Linked DNA regions of Homo sapiens. The protein of the gene in region 1 interacts with the protein of each later gene in a pairwise test. Each region holds a gene or a part of one and is shown in the gene's direction. Other genes may lie near its edges.

Evidence for each region.
Region 2: the proteins of UPK1B (region 1) and ISLR2 interact in binary tests that used the Homo sapiens proteins (3 or more experiments, as listed by UniProt).
Region 3: the proteins of UPK1B (region 1) and SIT1 interact in binary tests that used the Homo sapiens proteins (3 or more experiments, as listed by UniProt).
Region 4: the proteins of UPK1B (region 1) and EDAR interact in binary tests that used the Homo sapiens proteins (3 or more experiments, as listed by UniProt).

The regions. Positions count from the first base shown.
Region 1 is NC_000003.12:119,175,688-119,183,935, forward strand, and holds part of UPK1B (uroplakin-1b), read left to right. Parts: intron 1-8,248. UniProt on the Homo sapiens protein: Component of the asymmetric unit membrane (AUM); a highly specialized biomembrane elaborated by terminally differentiated urothelial cells.
Region 2 is NC_000015.10:74,133,222-74,138,186, forward strand, and holds the end of ISLR2 (immunoglobulin superfamily containing leucine-rich repeat protein 2 precursor), read left to right. Parts: coding exon 1-1,771; 3' UTR 1,772-3,581; downstream 3,582-4,965. UniProt on the Homo sapiens protein: Required for axon extension during neural development.
Region 3 is NC_000009.12:35,648,795-35,656,535, reverse strand, and holds SIT1 (signaling threshold-regulating transmembrane adapter 1 precursor), read left to right. Parts: upstream 1-5,604; 5' UTR 5,605-5,682; coding exon 5,683-5,782; intron 5,783-5,898; coding exon 5,899-6,034; intron 6,035-6,120; coding exon 6,121-6,179; intron 6,180-6,290; coding exon 6,291-6,352; intron 6,353-6,454; coding exon 6,455-6,688; 3' UTR 6,689-7,241; downstream 7,242-7,741. UniProt on the Homo sapiens protein: Negatively regulates TCR (T-cell antigen receptor)-mediated signaling in T-cells. Involved in positive selection of T-cells.
Region 4 is NC_000002.12:108,908,624-108,916,871, reverse strand, and holds part of EDAR (tumor necrosis factor receptor superfamily member EDAR precursor), read left to right. Parts: intron 1-4,107; coding exon 4,108-4,194; intron 4,195-5,799; coding exon 5,800-5,925; coding exon of another isoform or gene 5,926-6,021; coding exon 6,022-6,096; intron 6,097-6,339; coding exon 6,340-6,412; intron 6,413-8,248. UniProt on the Homo sapiens protein: Receptor for EDA isoform A1, but not for EDA isoform A2. Mediates the activation of NF-kappa-B and JNK. May promote caspase-independent cell death.

The DNA.
Region 1 (8,248 bases):
ATCATACTGGGAGCACCAGGAATCAAGAGCAGTGCTGTCCAGTAAAACTTTCTGTGATGAGGGAAATGTTCTAGATAATAGACACTAACCACATGTATCTAGGGAGTGCTTGAGATGTGGTTGGAGCAACTGAGGAACTGATTTTTACTTTTATTTAATTGAATTCTTTTGACTTTAAATAACTGCATGCAACTACTAACTACTGTATTAGTCAACACAGGTTTAGAGCTTTAAAGCAAGAAAAACTTATGGGCACTGTGAGCCATGGGTGACAGCCCTGGGAGAAACCTCCTCTTTTTGTTATTTCCAGGGACTTATCCTACCTTAAGTTGAAGCAGACCAGCAATTGTTGTGACCTACAATCTCCACACCCATCTTTACTCTGAGCCAAGGAAGTGTCTGTTCTTGTGCTGAGTTTCAGGGTGAGGGCTAAGGCAATCGCATATTGTGTTTCTTTGTTTCTTCCTCTCCTATTTTTCCTTTTCTTTTTTTCTCCTTTGTTAATTCAAATTTCTCTAGCATGAACTAAAGTTTGAGGTGTGGTTTGTGTGTTCTCTGGTACAACAAACTTGGGTGAGGAAAAGAGGTAATGAACTTGAAAAAATGATCTCATGCTTACTGGGCGAGTCTCACTTCTTTTTCTTCTGCTTTGCAAATTGGTTTGTTTAGTGAGCAATTGTTTTTAGACCTTTCAATGTGTCTGGAAACATCAACACTACGGGTATGATTAATTTTTATAGGAAAACAAACTGAGTGAAAGCACAATAAAGAAAAAACAAGAAATATAATTCTAGCTTTAAAAAAATCTGCACTCTTTAAAGCAAAGGAACTCCCAGGGTATTGAGCAATTTGAGTAAATCATCATCATACCAGGCCACAGGGCAGTTTTCCCACAGGGCGGGGTGCACAGGGGCTATTCCTTTACATGGAAAATATTTCGAGGTGAGTTGCGTACTTTCAGTCTGGGGCGTTCCATCTCTAACGCGGGCAGTTGCTGCTCTGCCCTCTGCCTTCCACCGCTTTCCACTTGTTAAATGTAACTCATCCCATTGGTTTCCTTCCCACCCCTGCCAGATAAGTAATCCAATATAGTCAGGGAGGCATTGTTTTAGAATAACGTGGGGAGGGTTCAGAAGACCACATATCTAAAACAGTTTCTACATACTGTGGGCTAAAAGAGAAGGCAGGAAAGAGGACACATCATATCATTAGAAGTCAGTATAGCCAGAGAGACAGACCCAAACCCCCAAATCATAAGTTACGAGGTTTGTCTTTTTAGGTTCTACCCTCTCCTTGGGTCTCTTTCCTTCTCATGGTGTCTTCCCTCGCCCTTTGAAAATTAAATAAGAGAAGGGAGCTGATAAATGAGGCATTGACATGGATGGCTCATGAAACTCAATGTGCCTCTTTTATATGAGCTTGCATTTTAATCAGGAATGAAGGAGTGAGTCTCAAATTGTGGCATTCAGAAGTTAGGGTAAACGGTGAGGAAGCCTTTGAATGAAGGAAAAGGATAGAAGGCTTTCTCCCTGCCAGCTTTGTTTATGTGGCTCCCTTTCTGGCTTATCTTGTAGTGAGTCTCATGGGTAGGCTCACAGGTGGGAGGTCAAGAGTTTCTCTTAATTTAAAAAGACGTAAAGGGAAGTGGATCTCCCTACCTTAAAAAGAATAATCATTAGTGACAAACCCCATAGAAGGCTGGGTTAAGAGTTAGGAAACCTGGACTTGAATCTTAACTCTTTTAATAACACATCATGATCGTGAACAAGTCACTTTCTCTCTGTGAGCCTTAAATTTCTCACCTGTACAAAGCCTCCAAGTTTGCAGCCAGAACTGATGTATCATGCCGTGAACAGGCACCTGGCCAATAACTGTCCTAGGATGAATGACACTTTAATGTCTCTCAAATTACATATCTTCTAAGACAAACAAAAACTACCAAAAGTGTAGTCATTGACTTCTAAGTGTGACACCCGTCAATTAATTTAAAAGTTTATAATTTTGCTTTTTAATGCAATTATTTGTTAAATTGGCTTTTTTGATGCACAGCAATCCAATTTTTGTGGCTTCAGAATATCTTATTAAACAAACTTGGGTGAAGAAAAGACGTAACAACGTACCAGACTATATTGCTGTGGCAGAGGCTAGTATGGAAGAAAAGCCATAAACACATATCCACAATGGTTTCAGCTTCCCTGGAGAGCTATTTGCTATAGGCAGAGAGAGGGATATAGGGAAGGAAGGATAATTCTGGGTAAGAGAAGTTGAGGAGAGAAGAGGTTTTTCAGCTGGGCTTCGGAAGGTGGTAAAGAGTTCGATAGGCAGAAATGGGAGAAGGGATTCCAAAGACAGGGACACCCTAAGCACAGCATGGTGGCATGACCAGGACACCAAAGGGTTGGGGGGGTGGGGCACGCAGTGAAAAATGGCAGGCAGGCCATTTAGAACCTGGATGGGTGCTGCCTTGAATACACACTGAGGAGTTTGTACTTTATCTCTTAGGTGGTCCAACCACTCCTCCACTGGCTGAATGGAAAATATAATAGTTGGGTCTGGCCAAATACTATAGACTGGTCTTTCAGAAGGGAACAGGAGCAAATCTGGATTCAAAGAAACTGGTCAGCAACAGAGAGTGGGGGGACAAGTGATGAACCTGGCAATAGGAAGTAAGTAGGAGCTGGTGGCTGGGCTTGTAAGTGCAGAGGGAATGACCGAGGGCTCTCCTTTGAATTTAGGCTACAGGGAACCTTTGAAGGGTTCTAAGCAGGGGGGAGATATAAATTCAGAGCTGTGTTTTAGGACAGTGGATCTCAAGATTGGCTAAGTGGCTGGCACTTGGAAGCCATGTTTATCTTTGTAGAATACCAGAAAATTTTGGTCTACTAAATTTAAAATAAGTAAGTAGATCATTTTGGCCTAAATTCATACCAAAAACTAGATTTTAGCATAGACAGGTGGTAGTAGCATCCACAATTTAAGAAAAATGTGTAAGAGGAAAATGTTTAAAATCACAAATTTTTATAGTAATTTTTCCTCAAATTAGGAAATGACTGGAATCATTCAATATTGGCATCAAAACATGTTGTCCCAGTAAATGGAACATCTGTGTTTTGGAGGATCATTTGAGAACCTCTGCTTGAGAAAGTTCACCATGGAAGCACTGTATGGAATGGAAACAGAAAATGTTTAATTCATCTGATCCAGAAGTTAGGGGCTGGCAGTGGGAATTGGTAAAATGGTATCAGGAGACATCAGAAAATGATCATATGTGCTTCTATCAAAAATATACATCAATCCCAATTGGGATGGTGTGTTACTCAAGGTTCTTTCAGAGATAGAACCAAAAGGAGATACATAAAGAGAGAGAGAGGCAACGTATGGTGGCTCACGCCTATAATCTCCACACTTTGGAAGGCCAAGTCTTGAGGACAGGAGTTCAAGACCAGCCTGGGCAACATGATGAAACCCCTTCTCTACAAAAAATTTAAAAATTAGCCAGACATTGTGCATGCACCTGTGGTCCTAGCTACTTGGGAGGCTGAAGCAGGAGGATCACTTGAGCCTAGGAAGTCAAGGCTGCAGTGAGATATGATTGTGCCACTGCACTCCCTGGGTGACACACAAAGACCCTGTTGAGAGAGAGAGAGGGAGAGAGAGAGAGGGAGATATATATATATATATATATATATATATATATATATATATATATATTAATTCTAAGGAATTAACCTATGTGATGTGATTGTGGGGGCTGACAAGTCCGAAATCTATACAGCAGGTGGGCAACCTGAAAATTTGGGGAAGAGTTGATGTTGCAGTCTTTTTTTTTTTTTTTTTTTTGAGACGGAGTCTCGCTCTGTCGCCCAGGCTGGAGTTCAGTGGCCTGATCTTGGCTCACTGCAAGCTCGGCCTCCCGGGTTCACGCCATTCTCCTGCCTCAGCCTCCCAAGTGGCTGGGACTACAGGCGCCTGCCACCACGCCCGGCTAACTTTGTATTTTTGGTAGAGTCGGGGTTTCACCGTGTTAGCCAGGATGGTCTCCATCTCCTGACCTCGTGATCCACCCGCCTCGGCCTCCCAGAGTGCGGGGATTACAGGCGTGAGCCACCACGCCCGGCTTTTTTTTTTTTTTTTTTTTTTTTTTTTTTTTTTTTTGAGACGAGTGCAATGGCGCAATCTCGGCTCATGGCAAACTCCGCCTCTCCCGTTCAAGCGATTCTCCCGCCTCAGCCTCCTGAGTAGCTGGGATTACAGGCATGCGCCACCACCCCCAGCTAATTTTGTATTTTTAGTAGAGACGAGGTTTCTCCGTGTTGGTCAGGCTGGTCTCGAACTACCAACCTCAGGTGATCTACCAACCTCAGGTGATCTGCCCACCTCAGCATCCCAAAGTGCTGGGATTACAGGCGTGAGCCACCGCGCTTGGCCTGATGTTGCAGACTTAAACCTAAAATCTGCATACTGAAAACTTAAGAGTTTCTCTGTTACAGTCCTCTTAGGGCAGAAATGCTGCTTCTTCAGGAAACATCAGTTTTTGCTCTTAAGGTTTTCGGCTGATTGGAGGAGGCCAGCCACGTTATGGAGGGTAATCTGCTTTACTGCTTTACTCAAAGTCTACTGATTTAAACGTTAATCACATCTAAAGAATATCTTCACAGCAATATCTAGACTGATATCTGACCAAACACCATATCCAAGCCAATCCCACCATATCCCAGCAATATCTAGACTGATACTGACCAAACACCATATCCCAGCCAAGTTGACATACAAAATTAACCAGCGCAAGGTGTTCATTACAATACTTCTTTATCAGGCAGGCAGAGACAAAACTCAAGAAGCTATTAACAAAGGCAAAACTACTACCAAGCCCTAGAGAACACCACAGTTTATATTCTGTGTATAGAGAAGTCACCATTTGTCCTTCCCTTTTGTTCTTTCTCCGTGCCTATCCTCTATGGAAAGGTCAACAAATTCATAATGTCTTTTTTTTTTTTTAAATATCCATTAGTGTGGAACTGTGTCAAAGCTTTTCTTTTTTAACCTAAAAAAAAGTGCATTACTCTACCCCTATGCACAGGCATTTATTAATCTTCAAAGAACCCTAAACATCAGCCAGGCCTGATCTTTTCCTTTTGTAGAAATTATGTCACCTTTCCTCTAAGTGTGCCAGGAAAGCAGCTCTTCCTAAAGATCCATCCAGCTAATGTATTATAAAAGTAAACTCACTTGTCTCAGTTTTCCAGGACTTTTCTAGACATCTTCCATTGAATGAGGGGCAGGGGGAAGTCTTTGACACAGACTTTGTAAGGTCAGCTTACACGTTGTGACCAGTTTTTCAACATCACTTTTGAGTGTCCTCTTACTTCTTGGGTAACTGTCTTCTGAGCTCAGTAATTTGCCTATTTCTTTCTTTTCCTTTAGCTCTAGAATAGTAGTTTCCAATCGTTCTGGGGCTAGCTATGTGTTTAGGAGGTTTAGAGCTGGTGAGAAGATGCTCTGTGAGCCCAGGATTCCTACTCTCGTTTCAGCCAGAGAAGTACCATTCTGATCTGATTTCATATATTAGAGTTCCCTACTGAAATCATATTTCCCTATTTCCTTTGAAAATGTTGCTCTGTATCAAAAAAATAATAATAATAAACCACTGGTTTTAGGTACCTTCACCAACCACTGGGCTATTAGCTCTAGTCTGTCTCCTTTATAAGACAAAAATAAGCAAAATTAGTATTGGGTAACTAATATTGTATTAAAACTTCACATATATTCTCATTTAATTTTCATAGTAACCCTTGAAGTTAAGTATTACTATACTCATTTGAAGATAAAGCTCGAGAAGATTAAGTAACTTCTTGGGGTCACAAAACTAGTAAGTGGTAGAGCTAAGATTCAAACCCAGGTCTATCCAAAGCCCACATTCGTTCCACTTCACCATATTCTCTAACTTGCTCTTCAACAAAGTTCTAGGCAAATTATTAATCTGCACACTCATTTATTCAAATAAACATTATTTATTTACTTTATCTTTTTATTTAGCAAAACAATTGAGTGCGCCTACTACATGTCAGGTACTATGCCACTTTGGACCTAGAAAGACAAATAAAACAGGGTCCCAAATGCCTCCTCCTACTTTGGAGACTCTTGCAATAAAGTGCAGGATGCCCTTCACAGGTTGGCAATGGGAGGAAAGAATGCAAAAGGGCAGCAGAGCAGAATACTCTCTGAGTAATGTCTGTGTCAGGGAGAAAGTGGCCCCAGGACAAGGACAACCTCAGGGGCCATCTCTGCATCAACTTGCAGTGTGGGGCAGAGGCCTTAGAGCTGGCCAAAGGCAGAGGGATGAGGCCCAATGGCGAGTGTTAACTGTTCAGGAATGCTAATGGCATGCAAGGCGGGCCCCTCCCATGTGGATGTGCAGCTTGGTACCTGACTCTGGCCGCACCCCAAGCACAACTAGGAAGTGTTTTTCCTTTTCTCTCATGAATTCATCTATGGAAAATAAAAAGAAGTACAAATGGGTATCTTGTGTAAGCCCTCCTGGTCCCTCGAGCAGAGCAGCCCCTGTGCAGTGAACAGAGGGAAGGTGGAAGGAAGGCTGCTTCTCCTCAATCTAAGAGCCCTTGGCTGTGAGACCAGTCACTGTTAAAACCTCCCTTCTATCCCCCTGGGGTCACTGATATATAAAACAAAATCATAACCCAATACCCTGCCCTTCCTAAATATCCTCTGGTTATAATTAATAGTTTCTTATATGTGTAAACAATCTTAGTGCTTACCTATTACTTTTGTATCTTTTATCTCATTTAGTGATCACAGCAACTCCATCTAACAAGTTATTGTCTACTAATTTTATAAACGAGGAAGTAGATACTAAGGAAAACATTGTCCAACTTTACACAGTAATGATAATGACAGCACAAAGCTGGGACTTGAACTCTGGCATTCTGATGCCAAGTCCAGTGTGGTCACCATTATACTACAGATATTAGACTATGCTGTGAGCCACTGGAAGCCTACACTTGGCTCCCTCTTGACATCTGTGGCCATTTGGGGGATGCAGCAAATGTTTTAGGTCCTCTGGACACCAACCTAGTCTAAAATACAAGTGGCCAAGTAGAAGCTATGAAATGCTAACCTCTCATTGACTTGCACATTGCACATTTTACTTCTAAGAATTCTGGTCTTGGGGGTAGGTGGATGAGCTGTAGATTTTTGATACATCCAGACAGGTTTTCTGGAAAAGCATGTGGGTACAGCACTGAGTTTGGGGGAAATATGCAAATATGAGCATCGTGTCCAGGGGCTAAAGAGACAAGAAGCTGGAGATGTAAGTGAAGAAAAGCCTAGTGTTTCTGACCTTTGCAAAGGTAGAGTCTCCTGAGCAGGGAAATGTGTCTGTTCTCTCCACTCCAGGTGTTTCTATTTCTACTGAAAGCATTTGCTATGTAGCAAGACTTTATAAACTGTAGAGTGTTTAGCAAATGATCTGGCGCCAGGCAGACCTGTGTTTCAGTCTCAGCTTCTGCACTTTCTAGCAATGTGGCCTTGGGCAAATTAATCTCTCCAAGCTTCCCTTTTTTTTTGTTTTTTTTTTTTTTGGAGATGGAGTTTTGCTCTGTTGCCCAGTGCAGTGGCCCAATCATGGCTCACCACAACCTCCACCTCCCAGGTTCAAGCGATTCTCCTGACTCAGCCTCCCAAGTAGCTGGGATTACAGGCACCCGCCACCATGCTCGGCTAATTTTTGTATTTTTAGTAGAGACGGGGTTTTGCCATGTTGGCCAGGCTGGTCTCGAACTCCTCACCTCAGGTGATCTGCCCACCTCAGCCTCCCAAAGTGCTGGGATTACAGGCGTGAACCACCATGCCCGGCCCCTTTTCTTTATACAAACAATGGCAAGACAACAGCTTCTCCCCCTAGATCCTTCAGAAGCAACATAGCCCTGATTTTAGCCTGGTGAGACTCATTTTAGACCTCTGCCCTCCAGAACTGTAAGATACATTTCTGTTATTTTAAGCCACGAAGTTCGTGGTAATTTGTTTCAGCAGCAATAGGAAATGCAGACCTGAAAAACCCATCTCTCAGGTCTGTTGAGAAGATGAATATCAAATGCCTAACATAGTGCCCAGAGCATTGTAAGTGCCCAATAAATGGCAGTTTTCATCACTATTTCCTTATCTTGGAAGACAGGAGTAGCTAAATTATCATGTGCCATTGATACCAAAGGCCTAAGGGAGAAGAAGAGAA
Region 2 (4,965 bases), on another chromosome or scaffold:
CAACCGGCTGCGTACGCTGGCGCCTGGCACCTTCGACGCGCTTAGCGCGCTGTCACACTTGCAACTCTATCACAATCCCTTCCACTGCGGCTGCGGCCTTGTGTGGCTGCAGGCCTGGGCCGCGAGCACCCGGGTGTCCTTACCCGAGCCCGACTCCATTGCTTGTGCCTCGCCTCCCGCGCTGCAGGGGGTGCCGGTGTACCGCCTGCCCGCCCTGCCCTGTGCACCGCCCAGCGTGCATCTGAGTGCCGAGCCACCGCTTGAAGCACCCGGCACCCCACTGCGCGCAGGACTGGCGTTCGTGTTACACTGCATCGCCGACGGCCACCCTACGCCTCGCCTGCAATGGCAACTTCAGATCCCCGGTGGCACCGTAGTCTTAGAGCCACCGGTTCTGAGCGGGGAGGACGACGGGGTTGGGGCGGAGGAAGGAGAGGGAGAAGGAGATGGGGATTTGCTGACGCAGACCCAAGCCCAAACGCCGACTCCAGCACCCGCTTGGCCGGCGCCCCCAGCCACACCGCGCTTCCTGGCCCTCGCAAATGGCTCCCTGTTGGTGCCCCTCCTGAGTGCCAAGGAGGCGGGCGTCTACACTTGCCGTGCACACAATGAGCTGGGCGCCAACTCTACGTCAATACGCGTGGCGGTGGCAGCAACCGGGCCCCCAAAACACGCGCCTGGCGCCGGGGGAGAACCCGACGGACAGGCCCCGACCTCTGAGCGCAAGTCCACAGCCAAGGGCCGGGGCAACAGCGTCCTGCCTTCCAAACCCGAGGGCAAAATCAAAGGCCAAGGCCTGGCCAAGGTCAGCATTCTCGGGGAGACCGAGACGGAGCCGGAGGAGGACACAAGTGAGGGAGAGGAGGCCGAAGACCAGATCCTCGCGGACCCGGCGGAGGAGCAGCGCTGTGGCAACGGGGACCCCTCTCGGTACGTTTCTAACCACGCGTTCAACCAGAGCGCAGAGCTCAAGCCGCACGTCTTCGAGCTGGGCGTCATCGCGCTGGATGTGGCGGAGCGCGAGGCGCGGGTGCAGCTGACTCCGCTGGCTGCGCGCTGGGGCCCTGGGCCCGGCGGGGCTGGCGGAGCCCCGCGACCCGGGCGGCGACCCCTGCGCCTACTCTATCTGTGTCCAGCGGGGGGCGGCGCGGCAGTGCAGTGGTCCCGCGTAGAGGAAGGCGTCAACGCCTACTGGTTCCGCGGCCTGCGGCCGGGTACCAACTACTCCGTGTGCCTGGCGCTGGCGGGCGAAGCCTGCCACGTGCAAGTGGTGTTTTCCACCAAGAAGGAGCTCCCATCGCTGCTGGTCATAGTGGCAGTGAGCGTATTCCTCCTGGTGCTGGCCACAGTGCCCCTTCTGGGCGCCGCCTGCTGCCATCTGCTGGCTAAACACCCGGGCAAGCCCTACCGTCTGATCCTGCGGCCTCAGGCCCCTGACCCTATGGAGAAGCGCATCGCCGCAGACTTCGACCCGCGTGCTTCGTACCTCGAGTCCGAGAAAAGCTACCCGGCAGGCGGCGAGGCGGGCGGCGAGGAGCCAGAGGACGTGCAGGGGGAGGGCCTTGATGAAGACGCGGAGCAGGGAGACCCAAGTGGGGACCTGCAGAGAGAGGAGAGCCTGGCGGCCTGCTCACTGGTGGAGTCCCAGTCCAAGGCCAACCAAGAGGAGTTCGAGGCGGGCTCTGAGTACAGCGATCGGCTGCCCCTGGGCGCCGAGGCGGTCAACATCGCCCAGGAGATTAATGGCAACTACAGGCAGACGGCAGGCTGAACCTCCGCCCGTCCGGCCCGCCCATTCCCGACCTCCACCTAGGGTGCCTGGGAGCAGCAGTCTAGGGCTGGCAGGACTTATGTCCCCCGTCCCCAACCTTCACCTACTCCTCCCCCTTACTACTCCCCAACCTTGACTACCAGGGACTTCTATTAGGGAGTGGGCCGATTTCACCAGTCCCTGCTACCCACGGCTGCCATTCTCCCTGCGGGCTGAATCCCCTTCCCCGCCAAGCACAGTGTTTATCTTACCCCATGCAAGACTCCACCCGCAGACGGTGGGCGATATCTATGTCCCTCCATTCCCGTCGCGATTATCTGCGAAATCCACCCCGCAGCCCGCCCCACCGTGGGCTCTGGAGCCAGAGGAAACGAGCGAAGACTTTGGAAACCTCGCGGTAACGCGGTGGTTTCGGGGGCCAGCCAAGGCCAGTGGAGTGCTGTGGGGTCCCACCTCGACCCCTCCTCCTCCCTTTCTTTCTTTCCTTTTTTTTTATTTTTTAATTTTATTTATTTATTTATTTATTTTTTGACGGAGTCTTGGTCTGTCGCCAGGCTGGAGTGCAGTGGCGCGATCTCGGCTCACTGCATCTTCCGCCTCCCGGGTTCAAGCGATTCTCCTGCCTCAGCCTGCCTAGTAGCTGGGACTACAGGCGCGCGCCACCACGACCAGCTAATTTCTTCTATTTTTAGTAGAGACGGGGTTTCACCATGTTGGCCAGGATGGTCTGGATCTCTTGACCTCAGGTGATCCATCTGCCTCGGCCTCTCAAAGTGCTGGGATTACAGGCGTGAGGCACCGCGCCCGGCCCCTCCTCCCTTTCAATCCCTACTCCCAGAAGCCGGGATTCGTGGCAACCCCTAGTTTTTAGTTCCAAAGCCTCCTGCCGGCAGGGAACCAAATCCTTCTGTCCTCCCACCCCCACCCCACTTCTGGCCAGTTGGAGTCCAGCCCGGTGCCTGGGGCGCCTTTCAGCTCCGCGCTCAGATTTTCCTGTTTTCGTTGTTTTCAAAGACAGCGACATTTCGGGTCTGGTGCTAACACCCCCTTCCCAGCCTCTGGGAAAATCGAGTGTGTGTGTCGGGGGGTAGGGAGGGAATGCGTTTTCTGTCGTCTCTCTCCTAACTTAAAGCGCCGCAGGACCGCGCGCCCCTTGGCGGCTGAGCCTGTGGACTTGGTCGCGGGCCAATTTCGTTGTCCGTGTGTTGGGCTTTCCGGAGGTCTGTGCGCCCAACAGCGCCGCTCCCGCGGCTCCACCCGACCCAGACCCTAGCTGGAAAGCGCCGGAGGCGGAGGAAGCTGACTGTGGCCTCCCGGGCCGCGGCTCTCTGGAGGGCTCGCGCCCTAGTTCGCACAAAGCCTGCTCGTGACTGTGCGACTGTGCGACGGGATCCGGATGGAGCCGAGCCCCTCCGTCCTCGCGTCTCGGTCCTCGCGTCGCCCCGCCCCACCCGCCCCTGCTTCGGCGGGAATCGTGTTTGCCCGGCGTGTAGTCCCTGACAAGCGTGCCCTGTAGGAGAAAAGTCTGTGTCCTGTGAAGTGTGACCGTGTAGTGTAGGGGGGCGGGCGGGGGGGCGGATGGGCGGGGAGGGAGGGAAGGGGAGGGGCGCGGCGCGGCGACTCGGGGCGGGGTTCTTTTTTCCATTTTGAAAGAAAGCGTCGGGGTTGGGGTGGGGGGAGTTTCAGTCCTCGGGATCAGCCCTCTCCGCGAAGCGCAGCACAAGCGCGGGCCTGGGACGGAGTAGCCCCCCGGAGCCCGTGCCCTTTTCTAAACGCGTCTGTATGCAGTCAATAAAACAATCGATTTGAACTGGGCTCGGTGACTTTTTGTCAGGGGACAGAGGGAGGAGGCCTGGGCGATGAAGGAGGAAACCGCGGAAGGAAGGAGCCCCCCCAGAGCCTCCCGTTGGAATCTTTTGAGTGATTTCCTGTTTGCGTGACCATCCTGTGATTTTTTTGCCAGGTGTTTGCACCCAGCCCTGCTCTTAGTGTCTCCAACTCCAGGGTGGGGTGACAAAAAACGAGGGCAGGCTGCAAGTGAGTAGGGGGAGGTTGCAGGAAAGGAAGGCGGGTGTCTGCAGACCCTGAACACAGGGAGTCTGAGTGTGCGTGCAAGTATATTTGCACTCAAGGGTGTGCGGCACCCTCTTTCACTTGAGACTGTCTGTGTAGTGGGGTGTGGCTGTATATGGTGTCACACTGCCCAGTTTCTGTGTCTCCACATCAGCCTTTGAGTTCCCTGAGAAGCCGGTGGGAAGAGGATGGGATTCATAGGGACAAGACCGCTGTGGCTTGCACAAGAGAAGTCACAAATAACACAAAGTACAGAGCGGGCAAATGATGTAAAGCAGGAAAGGGGGAGAACCTGGCCAGGCCGATTGCCCAGAGCGAGCCGGCACGTTTGGCCTGGGAGCCAAGTGTGTGCGTTGTGTGGGTGGGTGGGGAGCACTCAGTGAATGATGCATGCACAACCGTCAGGGTGTGCCAAGGGGGTGCACCTGGGGAATCAGGGTTGAAAACACACTGATTTCATAGTCCTAGAAAGGGGCTTTCTTGGGTGAGGAACAGGAGAGACAGGGGGATCAAGAAAGGAGACTGTGCTCCTGGCCAGCCTAAAACACACGGGTTGGGCTGCTGTGTGTCTCAGCTGAATCCCCCTAAGATGGGAAGAGGCGGGGAAGAGAGATGGAAGAGGAAAGCAACAGAAATGGGAAGCAGATAAAGATTCTCTCTCTCCCCTCCCTTCTTCCTGCTTCCAATTTCTTGTCCTCTTTTGCTGTCTCTGTGGGTCTTCCTAATTGGACCAGTCCAGGCTGGCAACAGGCCCAAGTTCCAATGCTCAGGGTCCTACCCCAGCCTCAGGTCTGTCCTCTGGCATAGGTGGTGGCTGTGACACTTCTTGGGGCCTGAGCCCAGATTCCCTTCCCAGACCAGCAAAGCTGTTTTCTTTCTTTTTTTTTTATTTTTTTATTTTTAAAATAGATCAGTTTTATTCTGCTAGTTCCATAAAAACAATGTAAACACAAGCGTTCTGTACATCTTCTTGGTGAATTCACATAATGCTTTGTTCCCTGATCCTTTAACCTCCTCGTCTTCTTCCAGTCATTTTCTGTTTGGACCACTGGCCACAGGAGTGGAGTGGGGTTGGGGCTTAGGAGAGAGCAATGTGGCTTTTTCGTATGACTTGTTTTATT
Region 3 (7,741 bases), on another chromosome or scaffold:
ATGTGGCCCGGAGCCTAACAGGCCACAGGCTGGTGCTGGCCTGTGGCCGGGTGTTGGAGACCCTTGAGCTAGGCTGGTCCTAAATTCCACAAGGGCAGGAGCCACCTCTCTTTTTTCTTTACCATTTTACTCCCAGAGCCTAGCACAGCACGTGGCGCCTGGCGATAGCAGGCACTCAATGAATCGTTGTTGAATGAAATTAATGAATGGTTAAAATGACCCAAAAGGGTAATATAGTTAAGCTCTTTCAAAGAATGAGGCAACTGCAATTCAGCAAGGTTAAGTATGCTACTAATCAGGTAAGAGGCAGGGTGGTGATTTCACCAGTTTTTTGCCTGTCTCTATACCTTCTGTCGAACAGCCTTTCCCCATCCTTGTCTTCCATGACTTCACCAGGCAGGCAGGTATTCCTTCTGTTCCACAGAGCCTTCCATGGTCTCTTAATTGGGATACACTGGGTCATCTGTCTAGTTAGATCAAGAGCTCCCTGACATGAAACCATTTCCATTCATCACATTTTTATCTCCAGAGCCTGGCATACAAACAGGCAATCAGTACATCATGTGTGTTAAATAAATGAATGAAGCCAAGATCGGTGGCTTATGCCTCTAATCCCAGCACTTTGGGAGGCCGAGGCAGGAGGATCACCTGAGGTCAAGAGTTTGAGACCAGCCTGGCCAACATGGCTAAATCTCGTCTCTATTAAAAATAGAAAAATTAGCCGGGTGTGGTGGCGGGCGCCTGCAGTCCCAGCTATTTGGGAGGCTGAGACAGGAGAATCACGGGAACCTGGGAGGTGGAGGTTGCAGTAAGCCGAAATCGTGCCACTGCACTCCAGCCTGGGCAAACGAGTGAGACACCGCCTCAGAAAAACAAAACAAAAACAAAAATTAACCAGGTGTGGTGGCCAGCACCTGTAATCCCAGCTATTCAGGAGGCCGAGGCATAAGAATAGCTTCAACCTGGGAGGCGGAGGTTGCAGTGAACAGAGATCGCGCCACTGCACTCCAGCCTCAGTGTCAGAGCAAGACTCCATCTCTAAATAAATAAATAAATAAATAAATAAATAAATAAATAAATGAAATATGGGTGTGTCTTCTTGTTTTTCCTGAAAGGAGGAGGAAGGGCAGGACAGGGAGAAACCCTCACCAAGGGGAGTTATCATAGTGTAGTTCAAGGGTCCCCAACACTATTGGTCCATGGCCTGTTAGGAACTGGGCCGCACAGCAGGAGGTGAGCAGCGGAGGAGCAAGGGTGAGCGGCGGAGTAGCGAGGGAAGCTTCATCTGTATATACAGCCACTCTCCATCCTGGCATTACCGCCTGAGCTCTGTCTCCTGTCAGATCAGTGCAGTGTTAGATTCTCATAGGGCCACGAACCCTATTGTGAATTGTGCATGCACGTGATGTTGTGGGCTCCTTATGAAAATCTAGGCCAGGTGCAGTGGCTGATGCCTGTAATCCCAGCACTTTGGGAAGCCAAGGTGGGTGGATCTCTTGAGGCCAGGAGTTCAAGACCAGCCTGGACAATATGGTTAAAAAAAAAAAAAAGTCTCTAATAAAAATACAAAAATTAGCTGCGCATGGTGGCGCATGCCTGTAATCCTAGCTACTTGGGAGGCTGAGGCATAAGAATTGCTTGAACCCAGGAGGCGAGGTTGCAGTGAGCCAAGATTGCACCACTGCACTCCAGCCTGGGTGACAGAGCGAGACCCTGTCAAAAAAACAAAACAGAACAAAAAAACCACAATACCTGATGATCTGAGGTGGAACAGTTTTATCCCAAAACCATCCCCTCCTCCCATACTCCTGTGCATGGAAAAATTGTCTCCCACAAAACCTGTCCCTGGTGCCAAAACGGCTGGGGACCAGTGGTCTAGCTGATGACCCAGTGACAGCCTGGGTACGCAAAGCAGGGTAATAGAAATCTTGAATCTAAGCCAGTTGGCACAGTCGGTGTAAATAAGGGGTTCAGGCCAGATATAATAATGATAAGTGGTCCCCAACTGATTATTGCCTTTAGAGAACTCAGGGCACTATTGCCAGATCTTTTTTTGAAGGAATCAACAAATTAGAATTTTAAAAATTTGAAATCTCCCAATTTTTAACTGTTGACAAGGAATCAGTGGCATACTTAGCATATTTGACACCAAGTGGTCTTTGTGTGTGTGTGTGTGTGTGTGTGTGTGTGTGTGTGTGTGTGAGAGAGAGAGAGAGAGACAGGGTCTCCCTCTGCTGCCCAGTCAGGAGTGCAGTGGTGAGACCATGGCTCACTGCAGCCCCAAATTTCTTGGATCAGCCTCCTGAGTACCTGGGACTGCAGGTGCACACCACCATGCCCAGCTAATTTGTGTGTTTTTTTGTTGTTGTTTTTTGTTTGTTTGTTTGTTTGTTTTTTGTAGAGACCAGGGTATTGCCCAGGCTGGTCTTGAACTTCTGGCCTCAAGGAATCTGCCTGCCTCAGCCTCCCAAAGTACTGGGATTACAAGTGTGAGCCACCTTGCCTGTTCCGGATCATTTAAAAAACATTTTTCTTTCTTTTCTGTCTTTTTTTTTTTTTTTTTTTGAGACAAGCTCTCACTCTGTTGCCCAGGCTGGAGTGGTGCAGTGGCACAATCATGGCTTACTGCTGCCTCTATCTCCCAGGCTCAAGCAATCTTCCCACTTCAGCCTCTTAAGTAGCTGTGACTACAGGCACACATGCCCCCATGCCTCGCTAATTTTTTAATTTTTTGCAGAGATGGGAATCTCACTATGTTGGTTAGGCTGGTCTCAAACTCTTGGGCCCAAGCTATCCTCCCACCTCAGCCTCTCAAAGTGCTGTGATTACAGGTGTGAGCCATCACACCTGGCCCAAATTTTTCTTTCTTTCTTTTTTTTTTTTTTTTTGAGATGGAGTCTTGCTCTGTCGCCCAGGCTGCAGTGCAGTGGAGTGATCTTGGCTCACTGCAGCCTCCACCTCCTGGGTTTAAGCAATTCTTGTGCCTCAGCCTCCAGAGTAGCTGGGATTACAGGTACCTGCCACCATGCCCGGCTAATTTTTGTATTTTTAGTAGAGACGAGGTTTCACCATGTTGACCAGGCTGCTCTCAAACTCCTGACCTCAGGTGATCCACCCACCTCAGCATCCCAAAGTGCTGGGATTACAGGCGTGAGCCACCATGCCCAGACCCAAATTTTTCTTGTTTTCTTTCTTTTTTTGGGGGTGGGGGGCAGGGTCTCACTCTGTTGCCCAGGCTGGAGTGCAGAGGCTTGATCTTGGCTCACTGAAACCTCTACCTCCTAGGCTCAAGCAATCCTCCCACCTCAGCCTCTCGAGTAGCTGGGACCACAGGCGTGCACCATCACACCTGGCTAATTTTTTGTATTTTTGGTAAAGACGGGGTTTTGCCATGTTGCCCAAGCTGTTCTTGAACTCCTGGGCTCAAGCGATCCTCTTGCCTCACCCTCCCAACGTGCTGGAATTGCAGGCATGAGCCACCATGCCTGGAACAAAGTTTTATTTTTCAAGTGGATCATTTAAAAAAATGCTTTATGGCCAGGCACGCCACTTCTCTCCAGCCTGGGCAAGTGAGCCGAGATTGTGCCACTGCGGTCTGGTCTGAGCGACAGAGGGAGACTCCATCTCAGATAAATAAATAAATAAAATTAAAACAAATTTAAACATTCTTTATATGACAAAATTATTCTCAATGGCAATTATAAAATGAATAATAAGGGCCAAGAAATAAACTCAGTGAATATTTTCTTTCCTTGAACTTTGTAAATATAATCATGTCAGCATAAAAACAGCCATGCATTGCTTAACAACAGGGATATGTTCTGAGAAATGAGTCACTAGGCAATTTTGTCATTGTGCAAACATCATAGAGTGTATTTTCACAAACCTAGATGGTGTAGCCTATTACCCATCTAGGCTACATGGTATAGCCTGGTGCTCCTAGGCCCCAATGCTTACAGCATGTTACCATACTGAATACTGTAGGCAGTTGTAAGACAATGGTATTTGTGCATCTACTGTAGAGACAGGGTCTCTCCGTCTGTCGCCCAGGCTGGAGTGCAGTGGCATAATCATAGCTCCCTGCAGCCTCCAACTCCTGGGCTCAAGTGATCCTCCCACCTCAGTCTCCCAAGTAGCTAGGACTACACGCTTGTGTCATCAGGCCTGTCTACTGTTTTTGTTTGTTTTTTGGTAGAGATGGAGGGTCTCACTATATTGCTCAGACTGGTTTTGAACTCCTGGCCTCAAGCAATCCTCCTGCTGCCTTGGCCTCCAAAGTGCTGGTATTACAGGAATGAGCCACTGCACCTGGTCCACTACAGCAATTTAAAAGTTAGATCTGGGCTGGGCGCAGTGGCTCATGCCTGTAATTCCAGCACTTTGGGAGACCGAGGTGGGCAGGTTGCTTGAGGTCAGGAGTTGAGACCAGCCTGGCAACACAGGGAGACCTATCTCTACAAAAAATGAACTAGATTAGCTGGGTGTGGTGGCACATGCCTGTAGTCCTAGCTGCTTAGGTGGCTGAGATGGGAGGATCACTTGAGCCCGGGAGATCGTCAAGGCTGCAGTGAGCTGAGATTGTGTTACTGCACTCCAACCTGGGAGACAAAGTAAGACCCTGTCTCAAAAAAAATATAAAACTTAGATCCATAAAATATTTTTCAGGGAGGATAATTTTATCACTGATTTTTTTTTTCAGAATTTCTGGAACATGGTGATAATAAGAGGACTGATTTTTATTTTTTAAATTCTCTACAGACAATGCACCCCCTTATTGCCTGCAACTCAAGGGGCAGGACTTCTGCCATCCCTATTGTTGGCATGCCACTGCACTGATTTTAAACTTTTAAAAAATGTTGTATGGGCTAGACAAAACACATCTCTGACTTCTGGTCTCAGGTTTATATTTGCAACTTAAAATCCCTCTTCCTACATCAATAGCCTTGCACGTGATGGAGTTAGCTCTAGGTATGGCAGGTACTACACCCGCTGAAGTGAACATGTGCAAGATAGGGCTCAGTTTCCCAGGACAGTCCTACAGCAAAGAGTTTTAAAATGCAATTAATTATTGAGAGTGACAGTTCTTACAGACAGTTTGGATGAAGTGGGTTGAAAGGGGAGGTTTGGGGGTGTCCCCCAAATTATAATGCCCCCAATGAAACAATAACAAGCATCATCTAAACACATATCCTCTCAGATCAGCCTTAGGGTGTGATGGGATCAGAGGTACCAGGAGGCTCCCCCGACCCTTCCACTTTATACCATACTCATTGAGGAATACATCTTTCTTCTGGGACCAGAGTCAGGGAGGAAGGTGGGCATCCTGGAGCAGAAGGGGTGTTCCTGTCCTTGTTAGTCCTGCTTCACACCACTTCTGCCCCCACCCCCCGCCCTCAGAGTCCTCAGGGACTCAACTGCCCGTGGCACATTACCCACAGGCCTGCTTCTCTTCTCAAGGGGGGCAAAGGGCCTGGGCAGCGAGGGTGGGGGAAGCTCAGGAGCTGCAGGAGTGGCGCAGGTGCAGGCACAGGGCGGGGTCTTTGTTCTTTTTTTCATCCCTCCCCTCCCCCTTCCTCCCCGGAAACCAGAGACTTTGCCACCACCAGTATTGGGGATGCTGAGCTGCGGGGTACGGGCCTGAGGAGGGATGGGAGTAAGAAGTGCTGTGGAAACCGTCAGGCCATGAACCAGGCTGACCCTCGGCTCAGAGCAGTGTGCTTGTGGACTCTCACATCTGCAGCCATGAGCAGAGGCGACAACTGCACGGATCTACTCGCACTGGGTGAGCTGGGCAGGGCAGGGGCTGGTGGGGGAGGGGTCATGTGGCCCCAGGTCCCACCTGCTGGGCCCTGGGGGTGGGGCGGGGCTGTTACACCCCCCTTCCTTTCACATCCACAGGAATCCCCTCCATAACCCAGGCCTGGGGACTGTGGGTCCTCTTAGGGGCTGTGACGCTGCTATTTCTCATCTCGCTGGCTGCACACTTGTCCCAGTGGACCAGGGGCCGGAGCAGGAGCCATCCGGGGCAGGGACGGTGGGTGAAGGACAACAGGGATGGGTTGACTGAGAGTTCTCTCTTACCGAGAAGTCCCCACTCATCCCCTAAACTCTGCGTTGCAGCTCTGGAGAGTCTGTGGAAGAGGTCCCGCTGTATGGGAACCTGCATTATCTACAGACAGGTAGGGAGCTGGCAGAGAGGAGGGGCACAGAGGCCAGGTCCTGGGTGGCTGGGATGGGGGCGTGCAGGAGGAAGGACAAGTTGCTGACCAGATTCCTGTTCCCCGTCCCAGGACGGCTGTCTCAAGACCCAGAGCCAGACCAGCAGGATCCAACTCTTGGAGGCCCTGCCAGGGTGAGTCAACTGTGGCTGGAGAAAAGGGGGAGGGAAGGAAGTGGGGGGCTTTTCGGGCTTTTCCGAGGGTCCAGTGAACTTCTAACAGCCTTGCATCTCCAGGCTGCAGAGGAGGTGATGTGCTATACCAGCCTGCAGCTGCGGCCTCCTCAGGGTCGGATCCCCGGTCCTGGAACCCCCGTCAAGTACTCGGAGGTGGTGCTGGACTCTGAGCCAAAGTCCCAGGCCTCGGGCCCCGAGCCGGAGCTCTATGCCTCAGTATGTGCCCAGACCCGCAGGGCCCGGGCCTCCTTCCCGGATCAGGCCTATGCCAACAGCCAGCCTGCAGCCAGCTGAGATGGAGGGCCTGGCACAGCGGGGCGTGCACTGCCCCAGCCCCCCGTAGCAGGGGCATGACTGTTTCCCAACCAGCACCCAAAGACGGGCGCCATTGCCAAGTCACAGGATGTGATCTACCCCGGACTTCCTATCTGAGCTTCAAGGGAGACATCTCAGGGCAAAGCTTTCGTGATGGAGGAGGCAAAGACAGTAGCCCCCTCCTTATTTCTTTTTTCTATCTGTTCCTCTTAGCCCCCAAACTCCCAGGTTCTCACTTCCTTCTTCTGGAGTTTAACCAGATCCTCCCCACCCCCGCTCCCTCATAGTCTACCCCCACGCCTCAGTGTCTCCTCAGGCACAGGAAGTGGGCGGTGGGGGAGGGGTAAGGGCCTGACAGTGGGTGGGTGGGTATATTCCTCAGGAGTCCACAGACTGGAGTGGACCTGGAACTTAGAGACGGGAGGGACCCGAGCCTGGCTTTTGACCTAAGAACCCTAGCAGGAGAATACAGTCTCCATCCTGCTGTCTCTGTCCTGTCCCCAAGTTTTCAAATAAAACTTTCCAAAAAGTGTTTAGATTTTTACCTAGAAGGCTGAAGACTTGCAAAGGGCCCTGCAGATGGGGGTGTGAGCTTTGCTGTCTGCACGGAGCTCTTTCTGGGGGTGCCTAGCTGGGGATGAGGGGCCAAGAGGGGCTGCGGCATCAACAGTGCAGAGGTGGGCACCGGGGTGGAGGGCCAGAGCCCAGCTCCTCAGCTGCTGTTGCTGCTGCTAGAACACCCCTGGGATCTGCACTCAGAGCCACTGCATTCCCCCTGGGGCTGCAAGCTCACAGTCCTGAGCTACTCTCCCCTTGACCTCTATAACTGCCATCACCTCCACAACCTGCCAGCCTGGTTCCTTCATCAAGTCCTCCAATCTGACCTCCGTCTGTCCGCTATGAGTCCCACCTATACCCCTGTTTTGACATCAGTAGCCTTATCTGCACTTAGTCATCGTATACCCCTAGAGGCCTTCTCCTTACCCCATCACTATGGCAGCGGTCCATCTCCACTCACTCTCTCCCACTCTG
Region 4 (8,248 bases), on another chromosome or scaffold:
TGTCTCCCTGCAGATGCTCTAGTGGCCCTGGGAACTTTGGAACGTGAGGGGGCTTGTGGGGTCTGGCTGATTGGGTGCTGGCTTTCAGCTTCAGTCCTGACACGAGAGGCTGAGCTCTGGAGAAATGTCAGGGTCCACCATCCCACCCATCTTGCCCCCACCTCCTCGGCTGCGCACACGTGCTCAGAGCAAGCATTTCTCTCACCAACTCAGGGATCCCTGCACACCAGGGAGCACCCAGCCTACACCTGCAGCCTGGCACAGTTGGGGACCGTTTAGTTGGTGCCAGCTGGAGGTGTTTGGAGGGAACCATCCGGTGATCAGGATAGAGGCACAGCTGGCCGAGGGCAGGTGGGCGCCTGTGGGTGCAGGAAGATGTCACATCTGCAGGCATTGTTTGGGGACGTCATTGTGTAACCAGCCCTGCAGGGCTGCAGAGGCATCCCACAAGTCTGTGTGCTCTCTAGGCTGCGTTTATTGCCCCACTCTAGACCACAGGCCTGGGCATATTTGTGTCCCCATCCCCAACCCTGTCACCTGAAGCAGCCTGCGAGCCCCGACAGGAAGGGACAAGAAGAGGCGAAGATGACAAACATTCACAGACAGCCCACGGCTGTTCTTTTGCTCTGACAGTGTATCTTAAGCTCCCTTGAGCGCCTTACTGAACAGATAGATCAGCTTCTTTTCAATCTCTTGTTTGCTCTTATAAAGGAAATTAGGTCATGCTGGAAACTATGCCATGATGCCCCTATGCTCACTCACCTGATGAAGTGTGGGAGGCTACCCCCCAGCAAACAGAAATGGGCACACAATCTGAAGCCTCCTTATCACACTGGAGACTTCCAGAGCAACTTCAGTAAGGTCTGTGAGGGGGAACGCTCTGTTGTTTGACATGGGCTTGTGGCTTTCAGCTAGGGGCACGCACTTCTCCACCAGCTCTTTTTTTATTTTTATTTATTTTTTATTTTTTTTTTGAGATGGAGTTTCGCTCTTGTTGCCCAGCATGGAGTGCAATGGCGTGGTCTCGACTCACTGCAACCTCCGCCTCCCGGGTTCCAGCGATTCTCTTGCCTCAGCCTCCCCAGTAGCTGGGATTACAGGCACCTGCCACCAGGCCCAGCTAATTTTTGTACTTTTAGTAGAGTTGGGGTTTCACCATGTTGGCCAGGGTGGTCTCAAACTCCTCTTAGGTGATCCTCCCGCCTCGGCCTCCCAAAGTGCTGGGATTATAGGCATGAGCCACCGTGCCTGGGCAGCTCTTTCCCTAATAAGAACACTGGTTCTGAGGCCAAGTAAGAGGCTAAATTAAGAAAGCAAAGATTTATCATAAGTTTGAGGCCCACGAGGAAAAAAGCCTCCATTCATCATCCAGAAACACAAGGAAACATCATTTGCCCCTCAGTGGACAGGTGATGTTTCTTACATACCCTATGACATAGCTGCCCTGGTCCCTCCCAAGCCCAATGTTTCATTGGCCAAGCTTCCAATTTGCTTTACAAGGTGTGAGGACAGAGAAGCATCCAGCCCATTCTCCTGTGGCCCTGCTCCATTTAGAGCAGACACGAGTGGATAGCTCAGCTGGTCACTAGCTCCTGGGCTGCCCCCACTCACAGAACAAGAGTGTGCGTTTCTCCTGAGAACTTCCTACTAAAGAAAACAGCCAGCCCAGGCATGGATTACAGGCTCACACCTGTAATCCCAGCACTTTGGGAGGCCAAGGCAGGTGGATCACTTGAGGTCAGGAGTTCAAGACCAGCCTGGCCAACGTGCATTTTTCTCTATAAAAAATACAAAAAGTAGGTGTGGTGGCACACACCTGTACTCCCAGCATCTCAGGAGGCTGAGGTGGGAGGATCACTTGAGCCCAGGAGGCAGAGGTTGCAGTGAGCCAAGATCGTGCCACTGCACTCCAGCCTGGGTGACAGAGTGAGACCTTGTCTCAAACAAAACAGAAAAACAGTCCAACTAGGAAGCTTGCTTCTCCCGGAAGCCTTGCTGCATGGGCTGACCAGGCACAGTGCTGGGCCATTCCACTGGGCTGGGCCAGGCTGGGGAGGTACCTTGATTTGGGGATGGCAGCTGGCCTTGTCCTTGACTCAGGGGCTGCTTTTCTGTAGACCAAGTGCACTTCACGGATTTCTCCAGAACTGGTAGAGACAAAAGTGAGAGAGTGGGAGATGCATTTGAAGCATGTTGGCTTTATTATTTGCAAAACTGAAGTCTGGCCCAAAAGAAGGTTGATCTTCTTTTAGGAGGTCTGGAACAGGACGTGGTCTCTTCTGTGGTGGAATGTTTTTGTTTTGGCTGAATGGTTGCGTCTTAGTGATTTGACTGAGAGCAAAATCAGCTTCCATTTTATCCCCGCTAAGTCACACTTTTTCCATAGAAGGGGAGTTGTGGGAAGCATAGCTTTAAGGGAAGGCAAAGCACACCTTGCTCTGAAACTCTTTGGTCACAACCATGTAAAAACATGTCTGAGGAAAAATCCTAGGCAGAAATACAGCAAAAGTCCACTTAGCCAAGGAGGCCATGGGTAGTTCTTTTCCTCCTTTCTTGTGTTCTTATTTTTCCAGATTTTTATTTTTATTTTATTTTTATTTTATTTTTTTTTGAGACAAAGTTTCACGTTTGTTGCCCAGGCTAGAGTGCAGTGGTGTGATCTCGGCTCACTGCAACCTCCACCTCCCGGGTTCAAGCGATTCTCCTACCTCAGCCTCCTAAGTAGCTGGGATTACAGGCATGCGCCATCATGCCTGGCTAATTTTTTGTATTCAGTAGAGATGCGGTTTCACCAGGTTGGCCAGGCTAGTCTTGAACTCCTGACCTCAAGTGATCCACCCACCTTGGCCTCCCAAAGTGCTGGGATTATAGGCATGAGCTACCGCGCCCGGCCCCTTTTCTAGATTTTTTTTTTTTTTTTTTGAGACGGAATCGCACTGTGTCACCCAGGCTGGAGTGCAGTGGCGCAATCTCAGCTCACTGCAAGCTCCGCCTCCTGGGTTCACGCCATTCTCCTGCCTCAGCCTCCCGAGTAGCTGGGACTACAGGCGCCTGCCACCACGCCCGGCTAATTTTTTGTATTTTTAGTAGAGACGGGGTTTCCCTGTGTTAGCCAGGATGATCTTGATCTCCTGACCTCGTGATCCGCCACCTCTTGTCCTTCTAACAAGAAGAACTCATACCCATACTACGTAAAGATAGCTATCGCATACACTTTTATCACCAGCCTCCTTCCCACAACAATATTTATATGTATAAATCAAGAAGCTATTATTTCAAACTGATGCTGAACAACAATCCCAAAGTGCTGGGATTACAGGCGTGAGCCACCATGCCTGGCCCCCTTTTCCAGATTTTTAATAGTGAGCATATATTACTTTTATGACTGGAAAAAGTATTAACACATTCCTACTCTATGTAATTGAAGGAATTAGTCAAGTATTGTATCACCCTAATAGTACTTTCATGTACACACTCTATGTTGCTTATTTTTATGGATTTCATATACTTTGTCTCCACGCATAGGAAAATTGAGTTGGTGAGGCTTGCAAAACTCCCCAACCCACACTGTTTAGTTTTAGCAGACTTATCACATGAGTGTTTTCATTTAAAGAACAATAACCAGCCGGGCGCGGTGGCTCATGCCTGTAATCCCAGCACTTTGGGAGGCCGAGGCGGGCAGATCACAAGGTCAGGAGATCGAGCCCATCCTGGCTAACATGGTGAAACCCCGTCTCTACTAAAAATACAAAAAAATTAGCCAGGTGTGGTGGTGGGTGCCTGTAGTCCCAGTTACTTGGGAGGCTGAGACAGGAGAATGGCGTCAACCAGGGAGGCAGAGCTTGCAGTGAGCCGAGATCACGCCACTGCACTGTAGCCTGGGCAACAGAGCAAGACTCCGTCTCACCAAAAAAAAAAAAAAAGAACAATAACGATGACTCTTTAGGGTTCATTAAACAGTCTAAGAAATACAAATATTTAGCTCCCCTCAGCCATCACTGCCTCAGGCCCATTCATGATCATGAATCCAGATCCATGAGCTCTGTGGCAGCGTCTTTGAAGGTGGAGCTTCTCTGGATCATTTGAGGGACTCTATTTTCCTTGCAGGTGTGGGAGCCACTTCAGGAGCTTCTGCCAACTTCCCTGGCACCTCGGGCAGCAGCACCCTGTCTCCCTTCCAGCACGCCCACAAAGGTGAGGAGGGTGCTCAGGTATCGATCACCTGGAGTTAGGTGGTACTCGGATGAAAGCTCAGAAGAGGAGAGGAAATGATCATGAGTGATGATTATGGTGCGCTTCCCCACCTGGCCTCACCTCCCTAATGTAATTGAATGACATGTTGCCCCCCGTGCAGGAAGTCATTATATCTGCAATCAGAGTTGATCCCTCTATGGGTGTCCTGGGACCGCTGGGAGGTGCTGGTGGTGAAGGCGGGGGCATAGCGGCAGGTGGACAGCACAGGCAGCTGCAAGCCCGGCCAGGAGGAGAGACCAGGCGTCCTGGGCTTTGGTTTGGCCGGGAGTTAACAGCAATTCTATCACTGGTTTTCATATAAACATGCTGACCATAGCACTTTAATATTAACTTGCAGAATGTACATTTCATTCTCCCTAACCAGGGAAGAAGGGATTGAGGAGGACCCCAAAGTTTAATATGTCTCTCAGAGTCAGCCCTCCAGCTGGCTTGGCCTTTCTCTCTCACTGGTTTAGTGCCAGCCCATTATTGAAGCATGTTTCGGGCCCAGGTCTCAGCGAGCCGTGAGGTACCCTCCAGAGCCCTCAGAGCACCCAGCTCGTCAGCTTCATCTCTGGGCCTCCCACGCGCTAACGCAGAGCAAAAGGCAGGACTGCTGGGCGAGGATATATGAATCTCATTTGCACAGGCCCCGGGGGGAGTAGCTCAAAACACGGAGAATATTAAAACACTTATGTCATCCAGACCTGGCATGCTAACGCTATTACAGGTATTCCCCAGATGATGCTGGGAGGCTGGTTTTCCTGCAGATGCACCCACAGGGGAGGCTCAGCGCCCACATGCGGGGTTCTCAGCTCTGGCACTACCTCCCCCGAGATGATTTGGGAGCTTCAGATGCTGGTCTCCTGTCTATTTGGGTGGTGGCAAATCTGGATCTTAGTTCAAGACAATCAGAGTCCTGTTTGGTTATTTTAGAGAATGAGAATGAGCTTCAGGGCATTTTATGCATCCAGGGTCGACATTAACCTGGGAACTGAGCAAAATCCCCCGGGGTGACTGAGGGACTGCCTGGTGGAGGCGGCAGTGCAGGTGGAATAGGTGGCCCAGCCGAGGCACCCCCTGTGCCCTGGGGCTCTTACAATGACACTTAGGTTGAAATTGCATGAGGTGCAAGATGGAGCCAAACCTGGAATCCAGAGCTGACTTTCGCATCCTGACTTTTGTTTGGAAATGCCCAAACTTGAATTGTGCTGCCTTCCAGCCACTCTTGTTCACTGGCCTTTCTTCCTCTCCACACCAAACCCTGCCCTCAGGTTGCCAAAGCAGTAGAAGCAAGAGCAAACTCCCTAGGAACAATCAGGTGACCCCAGAGAAGTCTGGAGAGGCCAGTCTGAGGGCAGCGAGCAGGGCTGTGGGCAGTCCTGGTCTGGCAGCCAAAACCAGCGCGGAGGATTTGGTTCTCAGTCTAAGCAAGCACCTCAGATTTCAGGGTTCCCTGAAAGCATCCCAGGGGCAGGGCCATTGCTTCCAGGGGCCGGAGTCCTGGAGGGAAGACCAGCAGGGATCCTGAGCTCTGGGTCATTCATGCCTTCTCTCCACCCACAGAACTCTCAGGCCAAGGACACCTGGCCACTGCCCTGATCATTGCAATGTCCACCATCTTCATCATGGCCATCGCCATCGTCCTCATCATCATGTTCTACATCCTGAAGACAAAGCCCTCTGCCCCAGGTGACGGCCCCCATGCGCCGGTGCCCTGCTTCCTGGACTCTCCGTCAACTCCCCCTGTCGGAGAGCCTGGCTGCTCACTCCCTCCTCTCTCCCCAGCCTGTTGCACCAGCCACCCGGGGAAGAGCGTGGAGGCCCAAGTGAGCAAGGACGAGGAGAAGAAAGAGGCCCCAGGTCTGTGAACCAGGGCTTCCACACACCATGTGCACGGTGCCCATCTCTGGGTGGAGGGCGTTCCCAGAAGCAGCCTCCTCGCTGCTTCTGCTCTCACATGCTGAACCATACTGTGCTTACCGTGGGGTGGTGCCACACAGACACCGGGCAGCTCTGCCCAACAGGAAGAGCAGGGTTGGGCTGAGCGCAGAGCCATGAGCCAATTCTAACTCCTATCTCCCCAACCTCCCCATTTCCCTGCAGACAACGTGGTGATGTTCTCCGAGAAGGATGAATTTGAGAAGCTGACAGCAACTCCAGCAAAGCCCACCAAGAGGTATGTGGAAGCCCCCAGCACCAAGCTGAAGCTGGGGTCCTGTGGATCCTGAGCAGGGAGGGGAACCAGGGTGCAGCCGAGTGAACTGACAGGCTAGCCTGGGACACTATGGGGACGTTCGGCGACAGACAGTCCCCACCACCTCTTTGCTGACTGGCAGGGGTCAGGTGGTGTGAGGAGCCTGTGGAAACAGCTGCCTGCTGCTCTCGGGTCAGGCCCCTGTCCCTGCATCCTGCCAAATTCCCTGGGCCTTCCTCCTTAACATCCGAATTCCTCATGCCCCTTCTCCAGACTGGGAGGGCAGAACATAAAGCCAAGGATGCATGCCTGTTGCGGCCAACACACCAGTACCACCCGTGCCGGTGCCAGTACTGCTGCCACCGTAATGCTGGTAACAACCGTGGTGATGACGGCTAACAGCATTTGGTGCCTACTGCCCACCAAGTGCTGGGCTAGGGCTGTGAACACATCCTCCCTCCACAGCCCAGGAGCAAGGTGCTTGTATCATCCCTGTTTATAGGATACCACACTGAGGTATGGAAGTTGTCACTCGCCCAAGGTCACACACTAGTGAACAGCAGGGCTGGGGTCCGAGTCCAGGCTCCCAAGGAGCCACATGGTGTAAAGAGGCCTCTGGAGGAGGAGATTTGGCAGGTGAAGCCTTTCCCGCGTTTACCACACATGAAGGTGTGGAACCAGCCCCTGCTCTAAAATCGAGGGTAGAGGGAAGTCAATATTTTATTCATCCAGTGGGATGGTCATTTGGACTTGGTCCTGCGTAGCTTCCAAAAATCAACCCCACAGCATCAGCTCCCAGCCAGGCAATGTGCTCGGACCCCCCTGCCAGGCCTCTGCCCGACAGCCACTGCAGGCTGCGCCTGGAAGGACACCCCCGCAACAGTGCCTCCCTTGGCAGATGGGGCACAGAGGCCACCAGAAGGTCACCAAACTGGTTACAGGAAGAGCAGAGGTTAAGCCCTCCTCTCCTGCCCCCACCCCATGATCTTCCTATGATTCACCTTGCAAAGCCATTCCAATCGATCCAGCATCTGTGTGGAGATCCTGTGTGCCAGATCCAAGCTGCTGCTCCCAGGACCAAGGGCAGGACCTGGTCACCCTGCATGGAACTCTTAAATAGGGCCTCCCTAGAGACTGAATTTGCTCCTCAGCCTCCAGCCCAGCCTTATCTCATTCTGTCTCAGCCTCTCCCTTCTGATATTCAGGCTTTTCTTATTCCCAGAAATCAAAAAGGCAGAGACGTGCCCCATGACTTGAGTTGCAGTTGAAGACAGGGAAAATTTGGAGGCCCTATTAGGAAAAAATATATACTGCTTTCATACACGAATATTAAATACAAATTGAACCCTGACACTTGTACGTTAAAAGACAGCAAGGCACTGAGCTTTTGTCCCTGCTGTTTGTCCTTAGGTCTCAGAGACAGGACCTGGGGTGCCACCTCACCTGCTCCACCTCACCTTCTCTCGAGTGGGGACAGGGATGGGTCCTACCACCTCCTTGTGAGGCCCTGAAGCCTGATGAGGAAGTGGGTCCCACTGGGGCTTCATGATGGTTCTCATTGTCTTTGTATTACCCTGTCTCTAGGGTTGTGTTTGCATATGGGCTTCACTGCTGTAACCTAGTTACTAACAAATATAATCCTTTTTTTAAGAAAAAAAGGTCTTCAGCCAAACCACAGGAAGCAAGCAGGATGCCTCTAAAAAAGAATATTGTTTTTCATATACTTGGAATGGTTTTAAGAGAGTTTAAGCTCCAACCCACATGTGCCTAGGGCAGACCCTGGGTTCTTTGTGGGCTGTGAGCCACAGGGCGGCATGA